Linked DNA regions of Homo sapiens. The protein of the gene in region 1 purifies or fractionates together with the protein of each later gene. This does not show direct contact. Each region holds a gene or a part of one and is shown in the gene's direction. Other genes may lie near its edges.

Region 1 (3,416 bases):
GCCATTGCACTCCAGCCTAGGCAACAAGAGCGAAACTCCCATCTCAAGAATGATATGCTCCTTTTTTTTTTTTTTTTTTTTTTTGAAAAGGAGCCTTGCTCTGTCGCCCAGGCTGGAGTGCAATGACGCAATCTCAGCTCACTGCAAACTCTGCCTCCCGGGTTCAAGTGATTCTCCTGCCTCAGCCTCCCGAGTAGCTGAGACTACAGGCCCGTGCCACCACGCCCGGCTAATTTTTGTATTTTTAGTAGAGACGGGGTTTCATTGTGTTAGCCAGGATGGTCTTGATCTCCTGACCTTGTGATCCTCCCGCCTCGGCCTCCCAAAGTGCTAGGATTACAGGCGTGAGCCACCACGCCCGGCCTGGAATGTGGTCCTTCTTAAAACTAAATTTATATTTTTTGAAATTCCAAAATTATATCTTTCATGTGATAAAATGAGATAATTGAGAACACATTTGGTGTTGTGGTCTCTTAAGATCTTGCCTAACAAAATAAAAGTACAAAAAAATTGAGCAAATATTTTCCCCTTATTTGTACTTGTCAATGAAGACCCCATGTATGTACTTATATGTTTTTCTTGTTCGTTACTTGCTCCAGTGGTTTGGAAATTTTGGTTATCCTGAGAATTCTCTGGGACCCTGTTAGACATGTAGATTCTTGCTAGGGCATACTTGCTTAAGAGATTCTGGCGTCAGTACCTAATCCTTAAATTACTTTGCAATCATCCAGTTACTATGTAGGTTGAGACCCTACAAGAAGGAATGATTCATTCAATGAGATGTACATCCTTGATCCCAGAAACTTTGGAACTAAGTATTCAGTTTCTTCAATAAACAGAGCACTTCTTGTTTCATAGCTTTTGGGGGTTGGCCTGAACAAATCAACTAAGTATGACCTAGTTTCTATAGCGTTCTGAACAATTTACAGAGTGAATTCCTGGCTGTTCACAAATTGGGAATTGACTGCATTCTTTGGAGAGCCAGGTGTTTCCACCGGGAAACCCCATGACAGGTACTCAGCCCAATTCTGTTTAATGTTTTATTAAACATAGGGGTGGGTTAAACCACTGGGTTTTAAATGAAGCACTTAGAGCTTTTCAACTTGCCCCATAGCTTTGTCTCAGAACCGATCATTCTATTATCATTAGTTTTGAGAATGCCGTGTAAAGAGCAAAGTAACCACTGGTGGTTGCACTCCGGAGCGGGCGAGGACGGCTAGTTCCTGCAGTGCCCAGGCCTGCACGGAAGCGCCCTGGCACAACTCAGCTGAGGATACACGCTTTTTCCCGCGCAGCCGGAGGGCTGAACAGCAAAGCACTCCCCGGGGGAACTGTGTGTCAGCGCAGCCTGGAGAGAGCAGGCCCAGGGGGCAGCTCCACCACAGGAGACAGGACACGCCTCAGTCTGGGCAAATTCCCGGCCTCCTTTGGCTCTAAGCCAGCAGCCGCCGCCCGCGACCTCCTCTCCTCCTCCGTCGTCACCCCGGCCGCCCTGCCAGCCCCGAACTTGCCCGCGCCTGGCCGCGCGGCCCCTCAGCCCACGGGGCTGGCGGCGCGGTTGGGATGGGACCGATGTGGCGCATGCGTGGTGGCGCCACTAGGCGCGGGAGTTGCTGCGGCGGGGACGGTGCTGCGGACGGCCGAGGGCCAGGCCGCTCCGGCCGGGCTCGTGGTGGGGGCAGCCCCAGCGGCGGCGGCGGCGGCGTGGGCTGGCGAGGCCGCGCGGACGGCGCCCGACAGCAGCTGGAGGAGCGGTTTGCCGACCTGGCGGCGAGCCACTTGGAGGCCATCCGTGCGCGGGACGAGTGGGACCGGCAGAACGCGCGGCTGCGTCAGGAGAACGCCCGGCTGCGGCTCGAGAACCGGCGGCTGAAGCGCGAGAACCGCAGCCTCTTCCGTCAGGCTTTGCGGCTCCCCGGCGAAGGCGGCAACGGGACGCCCGCGGAGGCACGCCGGGTCCCTGAAGAGGCCAGCACGAACCGGAGGGCTAGAGACAGCGGCCGAGAGGACGAGCCGGGCAGCCCCAGGGCCCTGAGGGCCCGACTTGAGAAGCTGGAAGCCATGTACCGCCGGGCCCTGCTGCAGCTGCACCTCGAGCAGCGGGGACCACGTCCGAGCGGGGACAAGGAGGAGCAGCCTCTACAGGAACCCGACTCCGGCCTCCGCTCCCGGGACTCGGAGCCCTCTGGGCCCTGGCTGTAGCCGAGGCCGCAGCCGGTGAGAGGCGGAGCCTCGAGCGGGCCCCTCCTCCTCCGTTCCCAGCTACCCCCGACCTCGCGCACGCCCTGGCCCGCTCCCTGCCCGCGGATACCTTGGACTACGGTGCCTTCCCGCCCCCACCAGTGGACACTTCCGGGTGGCGCTTGGCCATCCGCTTGGTGGAGGTCGAGTGGGTGCAAGGGCCCTCAGGACCTCCCACATGTACAGTTCCCCTGCCTCTTGCCCCGGCTAGTTTCCCTGGAGAGAGGCCTAGCCAACAACGAAGGGACGGATTTTAAAACAGCGAGAACTGGGTGCCAAGAAACACTTCATATTCCCTGAACTTTTCTGGATGTTGTGCGAACCTGTTGTATTTTTTTTTTTCCTGTATTTTGGTTCTGAGGGATGAGTAATGTGTTTTTAGTTGGTTGAGTTTATCCATTCTTCAATCCCCTAAAGCCTTCAGCTATTCTTTCATATGTGGCCAACATTTTAAGTACAGTGTTTGCTTTTATAAGTCGGTGTTACTTGGATGTCCTATAAAATACCCACTTTTTATAAAGATGATATTTATAACCTAGGAACTCATGCCTGTCTTGGCTGCAGTCCCTGTACATCTAATATATACTGATTTGTTTGCCCCCAGAGAATTTTTAAGGTATCTGCCTATATCGTGATCTTTTGAAATGGTAAATAAATCTGGTGCATTAAAAATTATCTGAAAGGTTGCGGCGAGTATTATTTGAAGTGTGTTACATTTTTATATTTTTAAAAAGATACCTTTATGAATATACTAATTTAAATCTGGTTTTAGTTGTCCTTAGTAAACTATCATGTTCTTTTAGCTTCATGTAACAGTGATCTTTTAAAATAATCTAAAGATTAGGTAGTCTAAAAGTTATTTTAATCTTTAATGTTCAATTAGCTTAATTAGTACGTAGATAATTTGCCTTATTTTGACTAAGGACTTTTAAGAAATTATAAATTACTTGTATATCAAAAGTTCCCCTAACAAAGTAATTTAAGTCTCAGTTGTTATTTCAATGGCACAAAAAAGTGACTAGTTTAGCAATAAATGTCCTAAAATTACTTTTATTGCGCTTCGTTAATAACACTTTTGCCAACTAAGTAATGAAGAGGATACCATTGTGCCTGATAAAAAAATCATAGGTCCAAGAGTGTTTCAATGATGGAAAACATTTCAGGGGAAAAAATCA
Region 2 (3,500 bases), on another chromosome or scaffold:
TCACTTGTTATAAGAATTCCCTCAAGCATCACAGTTTTTCCCATATTTGTAATGAGTGGCCCATAAGTAAAGATCTCTTTTTAAAGTGTAATTTTATATTGAGCAAACAGCTTGATGTGCGTATTTTCATAAAGTCATAGAATGTTAAAGTTGGGTGGAAACTCAAATCACTTAAGTCAGGAGATAGGAACTACTTGTCCAATATCACAGAGCTCTTCCGTGTTGGGGTCAAGATCCTGTGGACTCCTGGGTCTGTGCTCTTTATACCTCCTTTAAACGTAGCATCTCATTTATTGTTTTTATTTTTTGTGCCAACTTTCTGGTATATCCTGATCTGTACTGTCTAAGACCAGTGTTTCTCTGCATAAGGTCTAGGAATTGTGCATAGTGAGAGCTCTGACCTTCTTGTAGAACTTAAAATGCTCGCTTATTACATTGCATTGTGTGCAATGCTGTGAATTACATATATCCCCATTGTATGGATTAATAAACTGAAGCACAGAGAGTTACTGTTATTTGCTCAAAATCCCACAGCTGGTAAGTGATGAGGCTAGAGCTCAAAGTCTGGTTTTCTAATCACCAAAATGCTTTTTCTAGTCCGCTAGGCTGCGAAGGCATGAGAAGAACCAGAGTACAAACTTAAAATGTGAAGAGAAAGGGTGGAGAAATTAACAGCAGGAATGTGGAATGGTGAATTTGGAAGAAGCCTAGGAAGAGACACCAGCCCAGCTTTCCTTTTTCCAGGACGTCTTTTCTTGCTTCCACCGCCATCTTGCCATCCTCACTTTCACAGTCTCCAGTACTGTGCCGTGTGAGTGACAGGGGCCTGACATAATTGTGGCAGGGACAGCCATCACCTCACTCTCCCTGCGCATCTAAACTATCCCTAGGCGTGGGTTCCTAGCTGGACCCAGTAGACAATGTACTTGTCTAACAAAGTATAGCTCTTCGGAAGCTTGACCCTAGGCCATCAATATTAGATCTGGACTCTCATCCAGCTACTTTATTGGGATAAAATGAATACTAAAGTCTCCAGGACAGGAACTTTGTTTCTTAAAATTTATCTTTGTAGTTTCATCACCTGTATTACCCTCCTAGGTCTGCTGTAATAAAGTACCACAAACTGGGTGGCTTTAAAACAACGAGATGTCTTCTTCCACAGTTCTGGAAGCCAGAAGTCTGAAATCCAGATGCCAGCAGGGTTGGTTCCTCTTGAAGTCTTCATGGAGAATCTGTTCCTTGCCTTTCTTCTGGTTTCCCGTGGTGGCCAACGATGCTCAGCCTTCCTTGGCTATAGACACATCATCTGGTCTCTGCCTTCATCTTCACAGGGCATTCTTTCCTGTGTGTGTCTATACGTCTTCTTATAAGGACAACAGTCTTGTTGGATTAGGGGCCACTCTAATCCAATATGACTTCATCTTAACTTGATAACATCTGCAAAGACCCTATTTTTATTTTTATTTATTTATTTATTTTTTTTTTCCTTTCTTTTTTTTTTTTTTTATTATACTCTAAGTTTTAGGGTACATGTGCACATTGTGCAGGTTAGTTACATATGTATACATGTGCCATGCTGGTGCACTGCACCCACTAATGTGTCATCTAGCATTAGGTATATCTCCCAATGCTATCCCTCCCCCCTCCCCCCGACCCCACCACAGTCCCCAGAGTGTGATATTCCCCTTCCTGTGTCCATGTGATCTCATTGTTCAATTCCCACCTATGAGTGAGAATATGCGGTGTTAGGTTTTTTGTTCTTGCGATAGTTTACTGAGAATGATGGTTTCCAATTTCATCCATGTCCCTACAAAGGATATGAACTCATCATTTTTTATGGCTGCATAGTATTCCATGGTGTATATGTGCCACATTTTCTTAATCCAGTCTATCATTGTTGGACATTTGGGTTGGTTCCAAGTCTTTGCTATTGTGAATAGTGCCGCAATAAACATACGTGTGCATGTGTCTTTATAGCAGCATGATTTATAGTCCTTTGGGTATATACCCAGTAATGGGATGGCTGGGTCAAATGGTATTTCTAGTTCTAGATCCCTGAGGAATCGCCACACTGACTTCCACAATGGTTGAACTAGTTTACAGTCCCACCAACAGTGTAAAAGTGTTCCTATTTCTCCACATCCTCTCCAGCACCTGTTGTTTCCTGACTTTTTAATGATTGCCATTCTAACTGGTGTGAGATGATATCTCATAGTGGTTTTGATTTGCATTTCTCTGATGGCCAGTGATGATGAGCATTTCTTCATGTGTTTTTTGGCTGCATAAATGTCTTCTTTTGAGAAGTGTCTGTTCATGTCCTTCGCCCACTTTTTGATGGGGTTGTTTGTTTTTTTCTTGTAAATTTGTTTGAGTTCATTGTAGATTCTGGATATTAGCCCTTTGTCAGATGAGTAGGTTGCGAAAATTTTCTCCCATGTTGTAGGTTGCCTGTTCACTCTGATGGTAGTTTCTTTTGCTGTGCAGAAGCTCTTTAGTTTAATTAGATCCCATTTGTCAATTTTGGCTTTTGTTGCCATTGCTTTTGGTGTTTTGGACATGAAGTCCTTGCCCACGCCTATGTCCTGAATGGTAATGCCTAGGTTTTCTTCTAGGGTTTTTATGGTTTTAGGTCTAACGTTTAAATCTTTAATCCATCTTGAATTGATTTTTGTATAAGGTGTAAGGAAGGGATCCAGTTTCAGCTTTCTACATATGGCTAGCCAGTTTTCCCAGCACCATTTATTAAATAGGGAATCCTTTCCCCATTGCTTGTTTTTCTCAGGTTTGTCAAAGATCAGATAGTTGTAGATATGCGGCATTATTTCTGAGGGCTCTGTTCTGTTCCATTGATCTATATCTCTGTTTTGGTACCAGTACCATGCTGTTTTGGTTACTGTAGCCTTGTAGTATAGTTTGAAGTCAGGTAGTGTGATGCCTCCAGCTTTGTTCTTTTGGCTTAGGATTGACTTGGCGATGCGGGCTCTTTTTTGGTTCCATATGAACTTTAAAGTAGTTTTTTCCAATTCTGTGAAGAAAGTCATTGGTAGCTTGATGGGGATGGCATTGAATCTGTAAATTACCTTGGGCAGTATGGCCATTTTCACGATATTGATTCTTCCTACCCATGAGCATGGAATGTTCTTCCATTTGTTTGTGTCCTCTTTTATTTCCTTGAGCAGTGGTTTGTAGTTCTCCTTGAAGAGGTCCTTCACATCCCTTGTAAGTTGGATTCCTAGGTATTTTATTCTCTTTGAAGCAATTGTGAATGGGAGTTCACCCATGATTTGGCTCTCTGTTTGTCTGTTGTTGGTGTATAAGAATGCTTGTGATTTTTGTACATTGATTTTGTATCCTGAGACTTTGCTGAAGTTGCTTATCAGCTTAAGGAGATTTTGGGCTGAGACGATGGGGTTTTCTAGATAAACAATCATGTCGTCTGCAAACAGGGACAATTTGACTTCCTCTTTTCCTAATTGAATACCCTTTATTTCCTTCTCCTG

Evidence for each region. The genes of interacting proteins can lie anywhere in the genome.
Region 2: the proteins of TUSC1 (region 1) and PRMT8 purify together in Homo sapiens (co-immunoprecipitation; one large-scale study listed by IntAct). This does not show direct contact.

Annotation. Positions count from the first base shown.
Region 1 is NC_000009.12:25,676,469-25,679,884, reverse strand, and holds TUSC1 (tumor suppressor candidate gene 1 protein), read left to right. Parts: upstream 1-1,440; 5' UTR 1,441-1,572; coding exon 1,573-2,202; 3' UTR 2,203-2,916; downstream 2,917-3,416.
Region 2 is NC_000012.12:3,497,703-3,501,202, forward strand, and holds part of PRMT8 (protein arginine N-methyltransferase 8), read left to right. Parts: intron 1-3,500. UniProt on the Homo sapiens protein: S-adenosyl-L-methionine-dependent and membrane-associated arginine methyltransferase that can both catalyze the formation of omega-N monomethylarginine (MMA) and asymmetrical dimethylarginine (aDMA) in proteins such as NIFK, myelin basic protein, histone H4, H2A and H2A/H2B dimer.